Linked DNA regions of Homo sapiens: all the other regions are linked to region 4. The links come from fine-mapping of genetic effects on gene expression. A gene starts in region 4. Each other region holds a variant in brackets. All regions are shown on one strand. Distances are from middle to middle. Region 1 overlaps AKAP13 (A-kinase anchoring protein 13). Region 2 overlaps AKAP13 (A-kinase anchoring protein 13). Region 3 overlaps AKAP13 (A-kinase anchoring protein 13). Region 4 holds the start of AKAP13 (A-kinase anchoring protein 13).

Evidence for each region. PIP is the estimated chance that this variant, and not a neighbour inherited with it, causes the effect. A credible set is the group of variants that fine-mapping cannot tell apart.
Region 1: its variant is the best candidate, but not a certain one, in a credible set for the expression of AKAP13 in whole blood (TOPMed, PIP 0.55).
Region 2: its variant is the best candidate, but not a certain one, in a credible set for the expression of AKAP13 in whole blood (TOPMed, PIP 0.87).
Region 3: its variant is the best candidate, but not a certain one, in a credible set for the expression of AKAP13 in whole blood (INTERVAL, PIP 0.70).

Annotation. Positions count from the first base shown.
Region 1 is chr15:85,746,146-85,751,671 of GRCh38, reverse strand. It overlaps AKAP13 (A-kinase anchoring protein 13), which reads right to left. Exons shown (of 37, transcript NM_007200.5): 37 at 2,317-5,526. Among named protein-coding and RNA genes, the nearest start is that of LINC02883, 9.8 kb to the left of the region's middle. The variant A/G (reference allele first, on the strand shown) is at 3,261.
Region 2 is chr15:85,418,722-85,424,247 of GRCh38, reverse strand. The region is part of intron 1 of AKAP13 (A-kinase anchoring protein 13); the gene reads right to left. Among named protein-coding and RNA genes, the nearest start is that of AKAP13, 41 kb to the right of the region's middle. The variant G/A (reference allele first, on the strand shown) is at 2,656.
Region 3 is chr15:85,450,402-85,455,927 of GRCh38, reverse strand. All of the region lies in intron 1 of AKAP13 (A-kinase anchoring protein 13), which reads right to left. Among named protein-coding and RNA genes, the nearest start is that of AKAP13, 73 kb to the right of the region's middle. RefSeq lists enhancers at 1,103-1,649, 1,650-2,197, 2,788-2,907, 3,068-3,137. The variant T/C (reference allele first, on the strand shown) is at 2,784.
Region 4 is chr15:85,377,507-85,383,032 of GRCh38, reverse strand. It overlaps AKAP13 (A-kinase anchoring protein 13), which reads right to left and starts at 2,430. Exons shown (of 37, transcript NM_007200.5): 1 at 2,235-2,430. MIR7706 (microRNA 7706) reads right to left here and starts at 2,437; the gene lies at 2,371-2,437. RefSeq lists silencers at 1,726-1,893, 1,550-2,119, 2,500-2,579.

The DNA of each region.
Region 1 (5,526 bases), 370 kb before region 4:
GCCATTACCATATGAAAGGAGGAGGCCTTAGCGGGGGTGGGAAGGGCCCAGGCTGTCACTTGGATACCAAAGGCAGCTGGGGATGGCGGAAGGGGCAGGGGCGGGCAGGCAGCAAGGGAGGGCCCCAAACTGGGGTGGAGGGGGTAGGCTGCTGGGGCTCTGGGACCCACATCCTCCCCATTTAGGGCACATGCCACTTCCTCCCACTTGTCACTCCTCTCTGGCCCGGGGGGACACCCACAGGGGTGGCAGGACGGCGCTGGAACTGGACTGCTCCAGGACCCTCTGGATGATCTGCCACTGTGCCCCTGAAGAAACAGAGTCAAATTTTAAGGACAAAGGAGTCTCCGAAGACTCCAAAGAACAGGAACTGTGGCAGGGACGGGGAGGTGGGGGGCTTGGGGAGGCACTTCTTGCTGTGCAGAGGCTGGATGAGGGGGTTGTCACCCCCAGGCAGGGAGTTCAGGGAGTTCCAGGTCTGAGGTCTAACAATCTGCAGCTCAGCTCGCCCGCCCTCTGCTTCTGTGGCTGCTTCCAAGGAAATCGCAAGGCTTGCACGCTGCATGCCTCCTCTCCTCCCAAGCTCCTCCCTGGCTTTTTGGTTTTTGGGGCCTCCTAGTGTCCTCCCCACACTTCGGTTTAGGTCTCTGTCTTGCAGCATCAGCGACTCCCACTTCTTTTCCGGCAGGGCTGTGGCTGCAGACAGCATCTCCTGCTAGTTCACAGGTGGCCGCCCCTAGGCCACGGGCTTTCCCTGGGGATGAGGGACCTTCAAACGGAAAATGGCCACTTTCGTAGGAGCCACTTGGCGGTCAAGTCTGTGCTGTGGCAGAGGCTCTGGGCACAGCAGCATCCGTTAGGAGTGGGCAGAGACTTAAGCCCCTACTGAATGGCTGGCTAGTGTTCTTGGGGCCCTCTGCGCTTTGTGTCTCTGCTGTTCTGGAAGAGAATGGAATCTTCTCGCTCTTCTTGCCTCCCAGACAGAGCCTGTCCCTGGCTCAGAACCAGTTGCGGTGGAGAGCGGAGGAGGGAGGCCATGGGAACCACTCCTCTTGCCCTGCTGAGGGTGTCTGGGTGGATGAGGGCCACCGCGGACCCAGGCCAGGATGGCTGCTGTGGGGGAGGAGACCGCCAGGGCAGCAGTGACAGCCAAGAGCAGTGAGCGAGAGAAAAAAGACCAGTGTTTTACTGGCTTATGGGGAGGCAGCTATCACCAGGGCTACAAGACTCTGCAAAGAAACCCGTGCACTTCCAAGTTCGTGGTGAAAGGAAAGACACTTGGCAGCTGGGCAGGATTTTATTTTTTGAGACAGAGTCTCGCTCTGTTGCCAGGCTGGAGTGCAGCGGCACGATCTCGGCTCACTGCAACCTCCGCCTCCCGGGTTCAAGCAATTCTCCTCCCTCAACCTCCCGAGTAGCTGGGATTACAGGTATGTGCCACCACGCCTGGCTAATTTTTGTATTTTTAGTAGATAGATATGGGGTTTCACCACGCCCAGCTAATTTTTGTATTTTTACTAGAGGCGGGGCTTCACCATGTTGGCCAGGCTGGTCTTGAACCCCTGAGCTCAAGTGACCCGACCACCTCGGCCTCCCAAAGTGCTGGGATTATAGGCGTGAGCCACCACGCCTGGCCAGGACTTTCTTTTTGGTGACTGTCAGGGAGGGGCGGGGAGCTGGGAAGTGGCAGAGCGGGGACTCCAGGCAGCTTTGCCCAGGTTCTCTGCATTACTGCGAGCGGCACAGTTCTCCAAGGCCCAGCTGGACTTAAGGGTCTTCCTATAGGTCCAGAAAGCGCAGACCTGGAAGAGTAGGAAGCTAGTAATCTAATCTAAAAATGGAAGGCACAGGCTGTGCTGGTGGAGCCAGTGACAGCTGGAGCCCTGTGTGTCTCCAGGGGAGCCCCGACATTCCGGGATCAGACCCAGTGAATCAGCCGGGAGCTACAAGCAGAGAGGATCTTTCTTCTTGAATTAGTTTCTGGCAGTTGCTCTAGTTTGGGGGTGGGACGGGGTGGAGAATGTTAGCGAAGAGAGAGAAACTAACATTAAGGGAAGTCGCAGGCTCTATAGCAAAGTTCCTGTTCACTGTATTGATTTATCTGGAAATAGGAAGTTTTGGCTCTTGGCATAAACTGTTTGTTTGACTTTAGGGCTGATCAGTCACTCTCTGGGTTTGGGTCCCACTCCGAGAGAGTGAAATGCGTCCCCAGCAGCTGCTCGGTGCATAAGGCGTCTCCTCAAGAGCTATGGGGGTGGATGGGGAGTATCCCTTCTACAGGAATCAGGAATAGGAATAAGTCACAGCACCAACCAGAACTTCACAGGAAATTTATTATTTTTTGAAAGGGCTGAGGGAGACTTTACAAGGGTCTGAAGCTGGTAACTAGAAAGAAAGATAAATAAAATACGAAGCCAGTATGTTGTGGCAAAATTCGAGAAAACACACTGAAAAAAATCTTTACAGTTTAAAACTGCTTCACTTTATACATAATTACAAATGAATATACAGCATCTGGGTTTTAACCCGTCTTTTTTATTTAATAGGATTTAGCACACAAATGTCCATAGAGCATTTGCAAACAAGCAATGAGAGCAGAGGTATCCGGTGTATCCCAACCACCCTCCTGCGGATCCCCACGCCTCCCCTGCGCATCCCATGCGGGCAGCAGCACACAGGAGACCACAGGCTAAGCCTGAACCACAGGCAGACTCACCAGGCACGCCCCATGGCCTGTGCTCATGCCCTCAGGTGGTGACGAAAGGTAGGGGAAGCTCAGGCCGGGGAAGGTGTGGGGGGTGAGTGCTTCCTGCAGAAGCCCCTCCGGACTGCAGCACAGGTGGTCCCACCTGGTTGTAGGGCAGGTCACTCACTTCGGTGGCAGGGGACACAGCCAGTGGGGGGTTGCACGCCTTTAACCCTTAGTGAGATGGAGAAGTAATTCATGGCCTATCAATCTTTTGACAATTAAATTAGATGAGTACTTGGAAAGATGCCTTTATTTTCCCTTCCTCCCCCCCGCCTCCCTTTTATGGCAGCATTAAAACACTTTTCATTTTAAAGCCTGGCCAGCAGGCAGTAGATTCCAAGGCTCTGGTTAACTAGGAATGCTTTGCTACATTGAAAGGAAAGTTCAAAACCAAGCCCAAACTCCCTGCCCTCTTCTTTGTCTCTGAGGATGGACGAGAGCGACGGGGCTGGCTGGGACGCATCCATAGGTGGCTGCGCACCTAGACGGTCCTGCTGAAGGAAGGCAAGGC[A/G]CACAGATCTCCAGCAGCCGCTGCCCCAATTCCATCCACAGGGTTATTTCTAGGCTCCCACATTCCAAGGACATCCAAAACGCAGAGGGTGCACATCGTTCTGCAGTGTCTGGGGTCACCTCACAGCCACCCTCTTTGTGACCACTTGAAGCCCATTCACCAGGACTGTCTTTCTAAACTCCCTCCCAGGGCCTGCCTGGCTGTCCTCTGGGCACAGCTGGGCCACCATCATTAGAGTAAACCTCAACTCCAATGCAAATACTAAAATCCTTGGGAAGACCTGGCTACAGAAAAAGAGCCCTAGAAACAAAAATGATGAAATAGAAAGCACTTCTGTGGACAGCAACTTCTGGATCAAGTTCTGGCCTCTAAGGTTATAGTCCCACCCTCTACTAAGGCAGGGTCTATCTAGTTCAACCCTTGCATGCACTAACACCTCCCCTCCCACATCAAGAAACAACGCCAAAGGTCTCAAAACTTTGTGCTCACGACTAATACTGAGGCCTCAGGAAGGTAACAAATACGGGAGAAAATGAGCAAAGGGGCGACTCTGAATAGTATTACCCTGAGACACAGAAGGGGAAAAAAGTTAAGATTCGTACCTTTCCAAAAAAACCTTGGTAAGGATTCTTCCCCCCAGATAGCTCTCACGGGGGTAGAGGGAATACTGGCAAAGGTTGAAAGTGGCAGTTTGCATGTTTTTAACCCTCTCCATTTTCTAAGAAGAAAACACAGTCAATACATTTGATTGTCTTGAAAATGAAGCCAACCGATGAGAGCATTTAAAGTGCACATGTCACCTAACGACAACGACTGAGATGACTGGAATTGAGAGAAGACGCAGTCTCCTTCCAGGAAGCTCACTCGATTCTGGAAATCTGGGGGCTCTGGATAGGAACTCCATCTTTCCCCCAAAACTTAAGCACAGTTTCAGGCACGTGATTTCTTTAGCTTGATGGAGAACATGGTGTCCCGGCGTGGAAACAGTATGGGGAATTCAGTCCGAGTCACCCCAAAAAAACAACCCCTTCTCATGTGATAGAAACCAAGACAGGCCATTAGATCCAGCAACTAGAGCACTGTCAAGGCCATGAGCAAAAGCACAGGCAGCCACCATCCCAGGTAAATCCCCAGGACAGGAACAAATCCCCCTGAGGACAACTTCCAAGGGGGGAAGAGAGATGACAAAGGTATGTAAGCACAGTTCTTGGTAAGCGGTTCTGTTGCTGCACTGCAGACTGTATTCCTGGATGAAGTTGGGTGGTTTGAGGGAATTCCGGGCACTACTTTGATTTTAAACTTGTCCAACCAGAACCTGACCAAATCGTTTTGAGTGGGGTCTGGGCAGATGTGAAATCTCTATTTTTAAAAAAGACCACCAAAACAACCAAAGCAGATGAAACATCACAGCTGGGCGGGGAGTAAGAGACCCTCTAACATTGATGTCAAGCTCTGTGGCGACGTGCTCTAACTTCAGCATCCACGGTGTTTTTGTGAAGAGCACGTACGCAAGTAAATCCCATCAGCACCAACCTCGTATTGTTCCAAACCCGGAGAACAGGGGCACCCGGCCTACATTTACAAGGAGAAGAATGCAGGTTCAGTACTGCCCTCCTGCAAATCCCAGGAGGGGAACTCGGAGCCAGTGCCCAGAACAGACAGCCAAGCCCCGGGTAGATCTCAGGAAAGTCACGACAGATTCAGCTGTAACTTGGAGTTGTACAAATAGGTGAAAGAAAGAAACTTAACTTTTTGTTTAGGGTCTTTGCAAGGGGACATATTTTCAATAGAAAAATCAGCAGGTTTTGGCCTTTGGTCTGTTTCTGAAGGGTGAGTATTCTCCATGACAGAAAAAGGCAAAGGTAGGTCAGAGGTGGCGAGTTTCTTCATTCTCAAACAAGGGAGAAGACATCCTTTGATTAAAGAATGAGGCGGGGTGGGGGAGGGAAGGACATGGACCCCCTCCCTTTAAAATTTCATCTGGGCCTTCAAGGCACTTCAAAAGACACAGAGTGAACAGTGCTGGCTGCCACTTCACTCGGTATTGACTGGATAGTTTAGACTGTTGGGCTAGACCTGGCTCACCCTTAAAAAAAAACAAACACAAACACACAAATACAATAAATAAAACAAATGTAGGCTACAAATTTTAAACCAGACCTCTTTCAAATAAACTGAAAGATAAATATCTCCATCTGCAAGGCCAGCTTGCAATTCATCAATAAGCACCAAGTTACAGATTTTTCTTTTTTTAAGTGTGCTCAAA
Region 2 (5,526 bases), 41 kb before region 4:
GCCTTATACTGGAAGAAGACACCATCTAGGACTTCCATAGCTAGAGAGGGAAAGTCAAAGCCTGGCTTCAAAACCTCAAAGGACAAGCTGACTCTCTTGTTAGGGGCTAATGCAGCTGATGACTTTAAGTTGAAGCCAATGCTCACTTACCATTCTAAAAATTCTAGAGCCCATAAGAATTATGCTAAGTCTACTCTGTGTTTCCGTAACTAGAACAAAGCCTGGACAGAACATCTGTTTATAGCATGGTTTAATATTTTAAGGTCACTGTTGTGACCTACTGCCCAGAAAAAAAAGACTCCTGCTCACTCACAATGCACCTGGGTCACCCAAGAGCTATGATGGAGATGAACAAGGAGGTTAATGTTGTTTTCATGCCTGCTAACACACTTGCTTTCTTCAGCCCACTGACCCAGAAGTAAGTTTGACTTTCAAGTCTTATGATTTAAGAAACTAATTTCATAATCCTAGACCTGCCATCCATCCTCTGATGAATCTGGGCAAAGCCAACTGAAAACCTTCTGCAAAGGATTCACCATTCTAGATGCCATTAAGAACATTCACAATTCAGGGGAGAACATCAAAATATCAACATTAACAGGAGTTTTGGAAGAAGCTGATTCCAGCCCTGATGGATGACTTGGAGGGGTTCCAGACTTCAATGGGAGAAGTCACTGGACATGTGGTGGAAACAGCAAGAGAATTAGAATTGGAAGTGGAGCCTGAAGATATGACTGAATTCCTGCAATCTCATGATAAAACTTGAACAGATGGCAGGTTGCTTCTTAAGGAATGAGCAAAGAAAGTGGCTTCTAGACATGGAATCTACTCTTGGTGCAGATGCTGTGCATTGTTGAAATGACAACAAAGGATTTACAGTATTACATAAAGTTAGTTGATCAACTAGCAGCAGGGTTGGAGAGGAGTGACTCCAATTTTGAAATGAGTTTCTACTGTGGGCAAAATGCTATCCAACAGCATCACATGTTACAAAGAAATCTTTTGTCAAGGAGAGTCAATCAATGCAGCAAACTTCACTGTTGTCTTATTTTAAGAAATTGCCTAAGCTGCTCCAATCCTCAGCAACCACCACCTGATCAGTTAGCAGCCATCCACATCAAGGCAAGACCATCCAGCAAAAAGATCACGACTTGTTGAAGGTTCACATGATTGTTAGCATTTTTTAGCAATATTTTTCAATTAAGGGATGTACAGTTTTAGATGCAATGCTATCACACACTTACTAGACTACAGCATAGTATAAACAAAACATATGCACCGGGAAACAAAAAACATGTGTGACTTGCTTTATCGCAATGTTCACTTTATTCCAGTAGTCTGAAACCAAACCCACAATATCTCTGAAGCATGCCTGCAGATTAATATTGTACTATATTCAAATAGGTCACTTCTATACTGGCCATGCAACTGTTTTTCACAACCAGAAAATATCATATTAATAAGTCACCTATTTTACTGCAGAACATCTGCATTGCTGAGATGGGTTTGCTGCCAAAATAAGAAACTGTACACTAACAGCAACTCCTATTCACAAGAGAGTTGGATTGGTTTTTCTTTCCTAATTTAAAATCATATGCAGGTATGCACAGAGAAGGATGCAACACCTCATTTGGTTTGGTTTGGTTAGGGTAGGGTAAACAAGGTAAGTTCTTTCTTAAACTGCTCCATTATTAAAACAAAACAAAAAACCTCTGTTCAAATTATGAGAAAAGTCCAAACTAACCAATTACATTACTTCCTTAAAGATTAGTCAAAATGGTGCATAACTTGAAAACTGAACAGAGTACTTCCCCAACATAAGGACAAAGTTTTCTCAGGGCTCCAAGCCTTTCCTCCCCTTTTCCCTGCTAACTCTTCCTCATCTTACAGAACATGATCATGTAACCATCATCTCCTTCATGAAACAATCCCCTAATTCTCTCAACTCACTCTAAACTGGGTCAGGTAGCCTTCCTCTCTGCTCTCTAATGCACACCTCAAATCTCGTAACAGCACCCCCATACTGTAATTGTTGGTTTCCTAGTATGTCCTCTCCTACCAACATATAAGCTCTCTAAAGGTCCTAAATACGTACATACCCAGGACCAGACATACTAGTTGGTACATGGTAATTATTCAAATGACTCTGGATAAATCCCTGCCAAGAGAGATCATGATAGAGCCCACCATCATCTGTACTATTCACATCAATGCTCTATTTACAGTAACAAAGACCTTTGGAATGCTGACATATACTGAAGCACCTACTTAAGTGCCAGGCAGTGAGTTTTAGGTACTGGATATATGAGAGATAGAGTATAGACCTCCCTTATGGAGCACGAATGGTGACATTATAAACCAAATTGCAAATGTTCCTTATGCAACATGGTGGAAATGCAGTTAACAATGCATACACACCGAAAAACAGCACATGGGAAAATAAACTTTTAGTAGAAAATGAAAAACAATAATAAGTCTACAAAGTAGAAAGTCCCTTCTGTCGCCTTTCTTGGACCTGTGAAAGATTGTAACTCATTAACAGAGGAGGAAGGGCCTTTGCTTCTTCCAATTATATTATGAAAATCTGGACAAGAGTGAATATTAGAGAGAAGGGCAAAGAAAAAAAAAGATACAAAGTTGAGAGTGTGCACAGGC[G/A]CGCGCGCACACGCGCACACACAAACCCATCAAAACATTTGCTACTGTCCTGCAACCTCTCAAATCAAATATTGGGCTTTCATTCTGACAGTGACAGAAATGATCAAATGTTTCCTGCCATTTATTCCACTTCCTGTGCTCTAATTCAAGCCCCTTTAATATCCTTCTCAAAAACGCCAGGAGAGCCAGTGAAGACTTTCTCAATACAGCAAATAACCAGAGAGGGAGAATTATTCAGTTAGGAAGAGTAAGGGAGTAAGAGACCCACTCCAGCTGTTCCACAAGTTCAAATGTGCAGATAAGCTTCCATCTATTTTTAGTTTTTGCCTTGCTCACCCTTTAAGAATGACTAGTGCACCACAAGAACTCTAAAGCAACATTCTCCCTTAATTTATTCTAATTATATGTGCCTTGGACTGTTTTGACACCTGGAGATTTCACAAAATAGTTGCTTGTTTTCTCTGAGACTGTCACCATTTTCTAAAACTTGAGAAACTAGGCATGAAACAAAATCACCGCCTGCATTTCTAAGTCATCATCCATCTATACCTTTGTTTAATAAAAGTCTATATATTGGAAATAGTTCTCAGACCTTCACATAATTCAACTGTCCTAATCTATAACTAGGAATGAACCACACTCCTTAAAATGCAGAATTCCGATTTTTTTTTTAGAGAGACACGGTCTTGCCATGTTGCCCAGTCTGGCCTCAAACTCCTGGACTTAAGCAATCCTCCTACTTCAGCCTGTTAAGTATTCTCATTTTTAATGTAGTCCTTTTAAATTTTTTCCAATGAAAAAGTAATAGCCCACATTTAAGAAAATATTGGGGGAAATTCTCTTTCAATATTTCAGCTTCCTTTCCTTATAATTCCATCCCATTCAGATAATTTCCCTTACATAAAATAGCTAGCTCTTGACCTCCTTCGAAAATGGTCCCCACACTTTTACCCTTAGCAAAATTTTCTGGCATTATTCTCTGGTGAAATAAAGTACTCTTCCTCCTAATCCCAATTAGGGTAAGAGTTTTAAGTATCAACTTTCAATGAGTATTTGTCTTTTCTGTCTCATGGTATGGTCAACTAATTGCTTCATATTGAATAAAAACATAATCAGAATCATACCATACCCTGCATCCATTCTTTTCAAGCAGGAAAGATAAGAAATCAACTCCAAAGATGAATGAACAGACTGGGCTAGGGAAGCCATCAATCCTATCCAAAGTCATGGGCCAGATATCCCAAGAAGCTGTTTTGCAGCTCAGCAGACAAAAGAAGTGACAACAGTCTACGTCTTGAAGCCATCGCTGCTCTATCAGAATACTGTTAAAAGAGTCAGATTAAAAAAAAAAAGGCCGGGCGCGGTGGCTCACGCCTGTAATCCCAGCACTTTGGGAGGCCGAGGCGGGCGGATCACGAGGTCAGGAGATCGAGACCATCCCGGCTAAAGCGGTGAAACCCCGTCTCTACTAAAAATACAAAAAATTAGCCGGGCGTAGTGGCGGGCGCCTGTAGTCCCAGCTACTTGGGAGGCTGAGGCAGGAGAATGGTGTGAACCCGGGAGGCGGAGCTTGCAGTGAGCTGAGATCCCGCCACTGCACTCCAGCCTGGGCAACAGAGCGAGACTCCGTCTCAAAAAAAAAAAAAAAAAAAAAAAACAAGAGTCAGATTCAGACACTTAAGCCTTCTAGAAATGACAGATGAATATGAAAGGTGTGCCTTCTTTCTCTCACCCTCTTCACTCTTTACAGCCTTACAGAGAAAATGAGGTACACAATTTCCCTTCTCTGTGCCCTACTTATCCTTAGATATTGACATTTATCAACAGAATAGATTACATACATATGTTGATTACTGACAAAAGGCATATACTATCTTTCAAGCTTTTTAAAAAAAGCTGTCATTATTTTGAAATGAGACATAAATACTGGTTAACCATCTCTCTACATTCCCTCTCCATCCCCCAACAAAAAAACTCACTAAACTTGGAAAATTTTTTATTCTCCCTCCTCAACCCAAAAACTAGAATACCAAGAATCTTTCACTCTTAAATGATTAGGCAACTATATTTTCATCTATCTTGCAACTAAGCAATCCTATACATAAAAATATCCGGGTCAACAGTGACATACAATTGTTTTCCAGAATGATACACAATGTATCAGCGGCCACGTTACTTGTATGACTAAGCTCAGTCCAAAATGCAGATCAAGTTCATCAGTATGATCGGTGAGTCTTTACCAGGAATAGAAATGGGGCAACATAATGGCAACTCACAGAGTATCAAAAGGAGAGCATTTTATAAAGTGGCCCTGAGGCTGCCATAATTAAATCTCTCAGAACCACGCATTCTTTTAATGCATACAAAGAAGTTTGCAAAGTACTTGCAAAGAAGTTTGAAAATTTTACAAATCCTATGATGATATGATACAAAGATTATACTTAAAGCAAACAGTGTCCACTGTGGAATGTTCAAAAATATACAAAGACTCTTCCCATCACCACCAAATTTTTCTGGAAATAATGGTTCTAATTAATGGTTCTGGAAATAATGGCTCTAATTAAACCCTTAAGGGTGGCATCCTTGAGCACAGAATCCATTTCTTATTTTAACATCTGAACATCTAAACAATGCCCAGCACACAGCAGGTACTATAAGCAGACTGCTGAATTTAATTATCTATACTTAAACCCATGTACAATATTTCAACTGTCTCCTTTTTGTGGTTAAAGTGGTCTTAGCCACTTGTGGTCTTTATTATTAATGATAACTATGCGATTGATTCCTTATCTCTAGACTAAATGCAATTATTTGCCTTTTAAATGCTACTTAAATATTTTATTTTAACCTACATCATCTCCTGTTCAGAGA
Region 3 (5,526 bases), 73 kb before region 4:
ACTTAAAGGAGTTAGTCCCAGGCTAGAAAGAGATACATCCTAAGTCCCAGAAGAAGATTATTTAAGAATAAAACAGATGGAAGATTACAAAGGGATTACAGTAGTTTGCAGTAAGAAGCTAGATTCAACAATCTGTAATCTATTGAGTTTTATCTCGGTGTCAGACACAAATTGTTAAAGGGATGGACTGTGCGCCTTTGAAAGGGAAGCAATAATCTAAAAGCTCAGCATATACCTTCAAGAAGACACACCACAGTTCTTTTTTTAAAATAAATTTTATCATCCAAGGGATTGGTAACAGAGACTAAGGAAAACTAAAAACACTGTGTCTGAATTTGAGTAAAACCTATGCCCAAATCCCCTATGTTATTGCTGTGAACAAACTGAAGAAATGTGAGTTGAGACGTCATGGTGGCTATAAGTATAAAGAGTGTGACTAAAATTCCCCTCCCGCCGCTCATGCTTTTGTCTGTGCTTCTAGGTGAAATCTAGGAATTTAGAGAAGCACTGTGGGAGGGGGAGAATATGCCTCGTGTCCCACTGTTGCCATCCTCAACCCTATAATGGTTCTGTAAACAAAGCAAAATGAGTAATTCATAAATATCTACAAGAAACGAGATTTTGTACAGGCAACGCCAACTCTTCCCCACTCCCACTCTGCCTAATTCTAATTAACACATTTGCCAATGACTTAAAAAAAAAATCTAATGATCAAATGATCAAATATACAGACCATATTAGGTTCACTAAGAACATTAATACATTAAAAGGCAGACTGAAGATCCAGAAGTCCTAAAAGGCTAAAAGGATGTACCAAGGACAGACATGAGAGGCCCAATACACCAAGATGAAATTTAATATGGATACACATAAACCATGTACTTCCATCAAAACACCCAGGTCCTTCACTGAAACTCCCAAATGAACTCACAGAAGACAAGAAATCTATCTTAAAGTAGCATACACAGAAAGGAATTGTGATTTTTGGTGCCTAAAAATCTGTCAGTAAGACGACAGATCGAGAAAGGAGATAATCTGGATCAATTTCTTGCTGCCTGTTAAGAGACCAAATGATCTTCAGTGAGTAACTCAAAACAGTTACGAAATTTGGGTCAAGATAACAACTAAGGTGTGCAAAGTCTCGTTCTGGGGTGATGAAAAGATTCAAAATTGATCACAGTGACAGTTGAACAACTCTCTGGATATACTAAAATAACTGTACACTTTAAATGGGTAAGTTATATAGCATGTGAATTACATCACGATAAGATTTTTTTTTAAACAGTTTAAACGGCTAGGGAGTGGCCAACAGAGCCGACTAGAGGCAGCTAGTGTGTGTGACTCTCACAGAGAGGAACAGAAAGGGTGAGTAAATACAACACCTTCAACTGAAACATCCAGGTACTCTCATTGGGATTAATCAAGGAAACAACTTGACCCACAGAGAACAGAGAAAAGCAAGGCAGGAAAACAGCGCACCTGGGAGCAACACGGAGCCAGGGGTTCCTCCCCGACTCAGGGAAGCAGTGAGTGAATGAGCGATCCCCAGAAACTATGCTTCTCCCACAGACCTTTGCAAACTTCAGGTTAAGAGATCGCCTTGTGAACCCACTCCACCAGGGCCTGCAGTCTTCAGTCTGACCAACAGAGCCATGTGGAGTCTTGGCATGCGTGAAGACCCTGGAGCCTTAGATACTTGGGCTTTCTGGCAAAAGTAGCTGTACCTCCAGCAGGGTGGGAGGTTAGACTCCTGTAAATACCCCTAGGAAAGAGGCTGAATCCAGGGGACTGACCAGCAAGAGCCCACAGGACCCACTTCCATGGCAGCCCACAAGATAAGACCCACTGGCTTGGAATTCTAGCCAGCTGCCAGTAGTGGCACTGCACCTCCCTAAGAAGGAGCTCCTAGGGGAAGAGGTGGGCCACCATCTTTGCCATTCCAGCCTTTGTGCTTTGGAGAATCTGTGCTGACCCAGAACAGAAGGGATGCCCCAGCACAGCACAGCACAGCTGCTCTACCCAAACGTGGCCAGGCTGTTGCTTTAAGCAGGTGCCCAATCCCATTCCTCTTCACTGGGTAGGACCTCCCAACCTGGGCCTCCAGCCACCCCCACCCAAGCTCTCCAGCCAACAGAGATCTGAAGTTCCCCTGGAACAAAGCTTCCGGAGGAAGGGGTGGCTACCATCTTTGCTGTTTGGGTGACTCAGCTGTTCCAGCCTTAGAGCTTCAGAGTGTCTGAGGCAACCGAGGGCTGAAGTGGACCCCCAGCACAGCACACATGCTCTACCAAAATGTGGCCAGACTGCTTTTTTAAGCAGTCCTGATCCTGCTCCTCCTCACTGGGGGACCTCCCAACTGGAGTCTCCAGCCACTTCCTATAGGTGCCTTTGGACCAGCAACAGGTCATTCCTCCCTGGGACAAAGTTCCCAGAGGGAAGGACAGGCAGCCATCTTTGCTGTTTCACAGTCTTCACTGGTAACACCTCCAGATTCTGGAAAATCTGAGGTGACCAGGGACTGCTGCAGGCCTCAAGTATACCACAGCAGCCCTAGGGAAAAGTGGCCCCACTGTTACGTGGGTGGCTGATCCCATATCTCCTCACAGGGCAGGTCCTCCAAGCCTGGGGCTCCAGCCACCCCCAACCAGAGCTACTCAGCTAGCACCAACTCAGCAACTCCCTGGACAGAGCCTCTAGTGGCAACTAAAAGCCTCTCGGCCACTGACTCTACTGTGGAACTGCCCTTGCCACCCTCGGTCTGATGAAGGAGCAAAGACATTAAG[T/C]GCTTTATCCACACTCCAACAAGCTGCAGTAAACTCAAGGAGAGGAGGCCAGTCCATCTCCCACAGGTCCCACACACCTCTGACGGCTCATCACCAGACAGGGAACCAACCCCTGGCTTGGGCCCGCAGCACTGACCCTCCATCCTGGGCTGACTGCACTAAGCAACTGCTCACCTGCATCTCTCTGAGGTGGAGCCCCCAGGAATCAAGCAAACAACCCTTGGCCAAAACCACTAATAAGATCTCTCCCTCTGCAGCCTGTAAGCTGGGGGAGGAACATAAATACTGAGATCTCCCCAGAGCTGTACTGGATGTCATGAACTACAGCCAGCACTCAAGGGGCAGAGAAACCCATACTTTCAGGACACTGAGAGGGAACATGGCTACAACTGTGAGGAAACATAGGGGAGCCACACAACTGAACAACTGTTTAGTCCACCAGCTGTCCAATAAGCCTAAGAGCCACCTGCTGGATCATACCCCAAAGCTTTAACACCAAAGATACCTGACATACCCTCCCCTCTGAAACCAGAAACAAGAAGTCAGCTTCAAATAAACACCCTACACAAAACCTCAACTCAGTGAAAACATGCAGTAAAGAAGTCTATTGACCATACTCAATCTACACTGCAGTTAAAGTAATACCCACACACACTGACGAGAAATAACCAACACAAGAACTCTAGTAACTCAAATGGCCAGAGTGTCATATGTCCTTCAAATGACTGTACCAGTTCTCCAACAACAGTTCTTAACCAGGCCAAATGGGCTGCAATGACAGAAATATAATTCTGAATATGGATAGGAACAAAGATCATTGAGATTCGGGATGATGACAAAACCCAACCCAAGGAAAATAAGAATCATAATAAAGTGATACAGGAGCTGAAGGATGAAATAACCAGTATTTAAAAAAAAAAAAAAACCCTAAGGGATCTGACAGAGCTGAATATCACACTACAAGAATTTCACAATACAATCACAAGAATTAACAGCAGAATAAACCAAAGCTAAGGAAAGAATTTCAGAACTTGAAGACTTGTTTTCTGAAATAAGACAGACGGAAATAAAGACAAAAGAATAAAAAGGAATGAACAAAACCTCCGAGAAATTATGTAAAGAGGACAAAACTACAAATCACTGGCATCCCTCAAAGGCAAGGGGAGAACGCCAACAACTTAGAAAATATGTTTCAGGGTATCATCCACAAAAACTTTCCCAACTTTGCTAGAGAGGCCAACAGTCAAATCCAGAAAATACAAAGAACTCCTGCAATATTCTACACATGAAGATTATCCTCAAGACACATAATTGTCAGATTTTCCAAGATGAAAATTAAAGAATAAATGTTAAAGGCAGTTAGGGAAAAAGAGCAGGTCACCTGCAAAGGGATCCCCATCAGGCTAACAGTGGATCTCTCAGCAGAAACCCTACAAGCCAGAAGAGACTGGGGGCCTATATTCAACATTCTTTAAAAAAATCTTCAAGAATTTCATATCCAGCCAAACTAAACTTCCGAAGCAAAAGAGAAATAAGATCCTTTTCAGGAAAGCAAATGTCGAGAGACTTCATTACCACCAGACCTGCCCTTAAAAGATATCTTGAAAGGAGCACTAAATATACAAAAGAAAGACCGCTACCAGTTAATACAAAAACACACTTAAACACAGACACCAGTATCACTGTAAATCAACCACACAAACAAGCCAACATAATAACCAGCTAACAGCACAATGACAGGATCAAATCCAGACACACCATTACTAATCTTGAATGTAAACAGGCTAAATGCCCCCACTTAAAAGGCACAAAGTGGCAAGGATAAAAAAGCAAGACCCAATGGTATGCTGTCTTCAAGAGACCCATCTCACTCATAGTGAAACTCCTAGGCTCAAAATAAAGGGATGGAGAAAAATCTACCAAGCAAATGGGAAACACAATCTACCAAGCAATGGGAAACACAAAAAAGGTTGCAATCCTAATTTCAAACAAAACAGACTCCAAACCAACAAGGATCAAAAAAGACAAGGAAGGGCATGGGATAATGGTAAAGGGTTCAATTCAACAAGAAGACCTAACTATCTTAAATATATATGCACCCAACAGAGGAGCACCCAGAGTCATAAAGCAAGTTCTTAGAGACCTACAAAGAGACATGGACTCCCCACACAATAATAGTGGGAGACTTCAACACTCCACTGACAGTATTAGACAGACTGAGCCAGAAAATAAACAAAGATATTCAGGACCTAAACTTAGCGTTGAACCAAATGGATCTGACAGACCTTTTACAGAAGTCTCCAACCAAAAGCAACAGAATATACATTCTTCTCATCACGACATGGCACATACTCTAAAATCAACCATATAATTGGACATAAAACAATCCTCACAAAAGTAAAAGAAACCAAATCATACCAAACACACACTCAGACCACAGCGCAATGAAAATAGGAGTCAACACAATGAAAATCACTCAAAACCATCCAATTACATGGAAAATAAGAACATGCTCCTGAATGACTTTTAGGTAAATAATGAAATTAAGGCAGAAATCCAGAAGTTATTTGAAAATAATGAGAACAAAGATACAACATAACAGAATCTCTGGGACACAGCTAAGGTGGTGTTAAGAGGAAAATTCATAGCACCAAATGCCCACACGAAAAAGAAAGATCTCAAATTAACAACCTAATCTCACAACTGAAAGAATTAGAGAAGAACAAATCAACCCCAAAGCTAG
Region 4 (5,526 bases):
AAATTGGAACCTCTTGTTGAAATCCTTAGAGCGCTAGTTAAACCCACTTCTTTTCAAAAAATAATTGACAGATTAAAAAAAGGTTAGAAATCCTTTTAAAGTAAATGTCATCACAGATCTGCAAGTGAACTGTCATTCTGGACAGGTCCCCAGTTAGTGGCTCTCTCCTGTGTACGCTAGCTACCACTAGGCAGTAAAAATAATTTACCCAATTCAAACACGTACCGTGCCTGCACTATGTTAAGACTACCGGCAAAGAGGGTAAAAAGCTAAATAAGGTCTATCACAGCCCTCAAGGAGTTAAAGGACTAGAGGAGGAGTCCATTTATAGTATAGTATGTGTGCAGTTACCATTTAGTCAAGGCAAAAGAAGTGTGAGAAATCCTAAAACAATAGTACCTACAGTATAACATGCCATCACCGCCCAGAGAAGGAAAGCAACTAGTGCACTCGTCACGTCATGTTGTAAGTAGTACTTGCTTACATTATGTCCCTCCCTGACAATCCCTTCCAACCTCTGTCAACCTCCTTCCCCACAATCACACACACAAAACCACACAACCAGGAAGGGAAGCCATGGAGCGAGTACTGTGAATCCTAAAAGCGGCTCTGTAATTTAAAAGTGCAATGGCTGTACCTGAAGAAAATTTGTCTTTAGCTTCATCAGGTGAAGAAAATTGGTTTTATAACACAAGGCCCACCAAACCAGAAAAGCCCAGGAACGCTTCTCCACAGGACTCACTTAGCACGAGAAATCACTCTGAGCAAACTGACACACACAGTATTTCTCAAATTTTTCTTTTTCATTTAGCAGATGGTAAAGGAATACAACTGAAGTTAACAATAAATGACACTCTGGCCATTTTGCTCCACTATGAATGACAGACATTTAAGCTAGTTCCATCTGGGGAACTGAAACAGAATCATGTTCATATAATAAGCCACACAAACCAAATTAAGTGTAATATGTGCACCCAAACTTGACAAAACTTGTACTTAATGCAGCCTGCAAATCCCCAAGAGTCCACGACAGAATACAAGAATAGTAACAATGATTTATCTCAACTGATCTTAGCTTCTTCACAAACTTGCCAATAATGACCTTTCAAGAACTGCACCGTTTGTCCTCATCTGCGCAATCCAACAGTTCAGAAAAACTGAAGAAAATGCTTCTTCTAAAAATAAAACACTTGTTGTGGGGGGGACTACTAACAAAAAAAAAGGCACACTGGTTTTTACTGTACTGAAGCAATAAACTCTCCAAATAACTTCATTAAGGAGTGTCATTAGCAAAGAATGAACACCAAAATACCGCTCAATCCAATTTTCATTGTGAATTCCGGGATCTAGAAAATTAAATGGGACGGTATCACTCTGCTATAAGAACTATTTCCAAAACAAAACAAACCTATCTACCCCCTTTCTTGATTTTTTTTTAAAAAGTTTTAGGGTTTTTCCTTTTTTCAACTTCACATACTTCGTGGCTTTGCAAAAAAAAAAAAAAAAAAAAAGCAGTAAACCGTATTTACCAAAAAAAAAAAAAAAAGTTTTGTTTGGTATCAAAGTATAGCTGCAAGCTGAGCCGGCTGGCTGCACGGGTCCCAGAGCGCGTGGGGACCGCACGGGTCTCCTGGGCCGCTCGCCTGCGACCCGCGCGGGTCAGCTGGGCCGCACCCCCGAGAAGCCGCGGAGAGGCACCGACAGGCAGGCGCGGCCCGACGTGTTTACCGTCCGCGTCGACCCCGGGGAGCCGCTCCCTCGCGCCCGCAGCACTTGTTCACGGCGCGGACTCCACGGCGGGGACTCCACACCGCGGCCGCCCGCCCCAGGGGAGGAGTGAGCCCGCCCCGGCGGCGCCGACCCGGGGACCCGGGGCAAGGATTCGGGGCCTCGCTGGGGGCGGAGCGCCTGAGGTAGCATCGGCGGCCGGGCGCGCCCCCCACCCGGAAAGCGGCGACGGCCTCTAAGTTGGGCTGCGGAGTGGGAGGCGCGCCGAGCCCCAAGCAGACAATGCGGGAGAAGGGCGATGCGCAGGGAGGAGGGGTCCGCAGACCTGAGGTCCCGGCGCCGCCCGGCGACCCGTCTGTCCAGCCCGCCCCCGAAACCCCCGCAGCCCCCGCCCCTCCTCCGGGGCCCGCCCCACCGAGCAACCGCAGGGGACTGGCCGCGCTCCGCGCCCCGACCCACAAATCACAAAACTTCCCCCAACTCCGCCAACTAAGTTGCGCTCTCACCGTGCGGCTCCCGGGGCTCCCCCGCGGGCCGAGCTGGGACAACTCTTCACCTTCGCCGCGGAGAAAGACAATAGGCGGCCGCTCCCCCGGAGGCGGCTAAAGCGGCGGCGACCGAGGCGAGCAATGGGCACGGCAGTCTCGGCAGAGCACAGGCGCTTCACCGCGGCTGCTCGGGCTCCGCGCTGGCCCTGCACACAGCTCCAGTCCGCGCATGCGCCGAAAGACGCTCGGGAGGGTGGGCGGGGCACGCGGGAAGGCGGTAACGCCTGCGAGTCCTCCCGTGAGTACACGCGGAGCAAGAACTGCGAGCTGGGATTGCACGGCAGAACTGCCCATCTCGCTGCATGAGACCAATAGTAAGGCTCCTGGACGGGGCACTCAGGTTGCTAAGGGAGGCTGAGGTTGACCGCCGCTGCTGCTCGGCGGCAAAGTGATCAAAGTAGGGTGGCTGGCAGAGGCTGCTCTGGGAAATGCCCACCCACGGTCTCCTCTCCGCCCTGTCTCCAGAAACCGCCCTTCCTCTGTGTACTGGTGGTTACCTGAGCTGCAGCACTTAACCACACATCGTGAAATGATTTACTCCTCTATTTCCCCCACTTCAACTCAGGAAGTGGGGTTTAGTCTTCTGTGTCCACAGCCTAGGACCGTCTAAGGTATTAGGTATTAAATATAGGTATTAAACAAGTGTTGGATGGATGCACGGCGCTATGGCGGAATCACAATTGTGACAGTGCATTCCGTGAACTTCTGGCTACTCGATCACCACAAAGTCATTCCGTGTTCGAGCTGCAAAGGACCTCAAAAATCATCTGGTTGCTTTGGGAAACAAAATGTGGTCCGTGTACCAATGGTGCCGGTAACCACCGGCCCACAGAGGAAGGGCGGTTTCTGGAGACAGGGCGGAGAATATATTAGTTGGTACACGAAGAAACTTCTTTTTTCAAATAGTTAAGTGTTTTTAGTGCGCATTAGGAGGGAAATGCCTATCACGTCAAACCACTGTTTCATTAATGTTATTTCTTAGGTCAAATAAAAAGTGGCAAAAAACGAAAGCACTTCAAGAAAAGTGTTAAGTAAAAAACTGAGACAATTTATATGCAGTTGAAGAACGTGTAAAACTAGTTGATAGTGATTGAAGTAAGAACAGCGGTTAGGTAGGAGGAGAAGATTATTGGCTGGGAAGGAGGAGGAGGGAACCCTCTGGGGTGCTGGTTCTGTATTTTGACCTGGGTGATAGATAACAAAAGTATATACATGAATAAAAAATACATCCAGTGCACTTTAGTGCACTTTGCACATTTTAAACATGTATTTTTAATGTCAGTTTTCAAAAATCTGGTACAGGATATTACCCCCCCGCCCCCAAAAGAAAAGCAAAGATGCAAATGACTGCCATTTGGGAAACACTGATCCAGGCGGCTCACTAGCAGTGACCAAACACCTGAGAAAGGGTATTGTGAATACCTGATGTGTGTGCCAGGAACTTCCATTGTTGAATAGCTCCAAATCTCAGAAATGCTCCTAATGTTGAGCTCTGGTGCTCACATATATTTTCTCTTTTTTTCTTTTTTCTTTTTTTTTTTTTTTTTTTTTTTGAGGCAGAGTTTCACTCTTGTTGCCCAGGCTGGAGTGCAATGGTGCAATCTCAGCTCACTGTAACCTCCACCTCCAGGGTTCAAGCGATTCTCCTGCCTCAGCCTCCCAAGTAGCTGGGATTACAGGTACCCACCACCACACCCGGCTAATTTTTTTATTTTTAGTAGAGACAGTGTTTCACCATGTTGGCCAGGCTGGTCTCAAACTCCTGACCTCAGGTGCTCCACCCACCTCGGCCTCCCAAATTGCCGGGATTACAGGCATGAGCCACCGCACCCGGCCCTATTTTCTTAAGTAACCCTCACCGAATGGCTTTAAAAAAAAAAAAAGAAAAGAAAAGAAAGGCCAAACATGCCCAGTTCTTCATGTGAAATTATTTCTGTATCACTTCATCATGCTGCTCACCCTCTTCCACTGTTCTCTAATCTGTCCTTGTTGATTTTTAAAAACTGGCACAAGGCCTGGCGCGGTGGCTCACACCTGTAATCCCAGCACTTTGGGAGGCTGAGGAGGGCAGATTGCTCGAGCCCAGGAGTTCGAGACCAGCCTGGGCATCAATTGAAACGCCATCTGTACTAACAAATACAAAAATTAGCCAAGCATGGTAGCCCAAATCTTAGCTACTTGGGAGGCTCAGGTGGAAGGATTGCTTGAGCCCAGGAGGCAGAGGTTGCAGTGAGCCAAATCATGCCACTGTACCCCAGCCTGGGTGACAGAGCCAGACCCTATCTCAAAAAAAAAAAAAAAAAGGCTGGCACAGAGAGAGAAGCAGCCTATCATGAGCCGGTCACTTCTCAAAGAACCTGAGTCTTCTGTGAAGCAAGAGTGCTAACCAAGAAAATCACTTGGACCCTAACATTTGATAACCCAGTGAACTTCCCCCTTAGAACCTAGCTTGTTTGTTTCAGAGGCAGCAGTAAATGTTACCATGTCATCTTTCTACGGACACTGACAACACCGTTCCCTGCTCCCCGCCTCAGCAGGATTTACACCTTTCCAGTGGGCTGCAGGAAAAGTTAAGAGTCTAGCACTTCTTGAATTTACTGTGCTTACAAATCACCTGGGAGTGTTTGTTAAATGTGGATTCTGATTCAGTAAGTCTGGGGTGGCATCTGGGATTCCGCATTTCTAAAAAGCTCCCAGGTGCTACTGACGTAGCTATTTTGAAACCCGACTTTTTTTTTTTTTTTTTTTTTTAAGACAGAGTCTCACTCTATTGTCCAGGCTGGAATGCAGTGTCATGATCTCGGCTCACTGAAACCTCCGCCTCCCCGGTTCAAGCGATTATCCTGCCTCAGCCCCCCAAGTAGCTAGGATTACAGGTTCACACCACCACACCCAGCTAGTTTTTGTATTTTTGGTAGAGACAGAGTGTCACCATATTGGCCAGGCTGGCCTTGAACTCCTGACCTTAGGCGATCTGCCCGCCTCGGCCTCCCAAAGTGCTGGGATTACAGGCATGAACCACCATGCCCAGCCTGAAACCCAACTTTGAAGGCAGGAGTCTACCCTAAATTCCCCAAACGGTTGAGCCCTCTGTCCTCCTTGGGAATTCCTAAATTGTTATCTGCATGGCTGATGTCGTCTCATCATTCAGGCCTCAGCTCAAATGATCCTCCTCAGAGAAACCTTCCTTGGCCACCCTCCCTAAATTGACCCACTCTAATCTAGTCCCTCTCTTGCGTATTACTCAGTT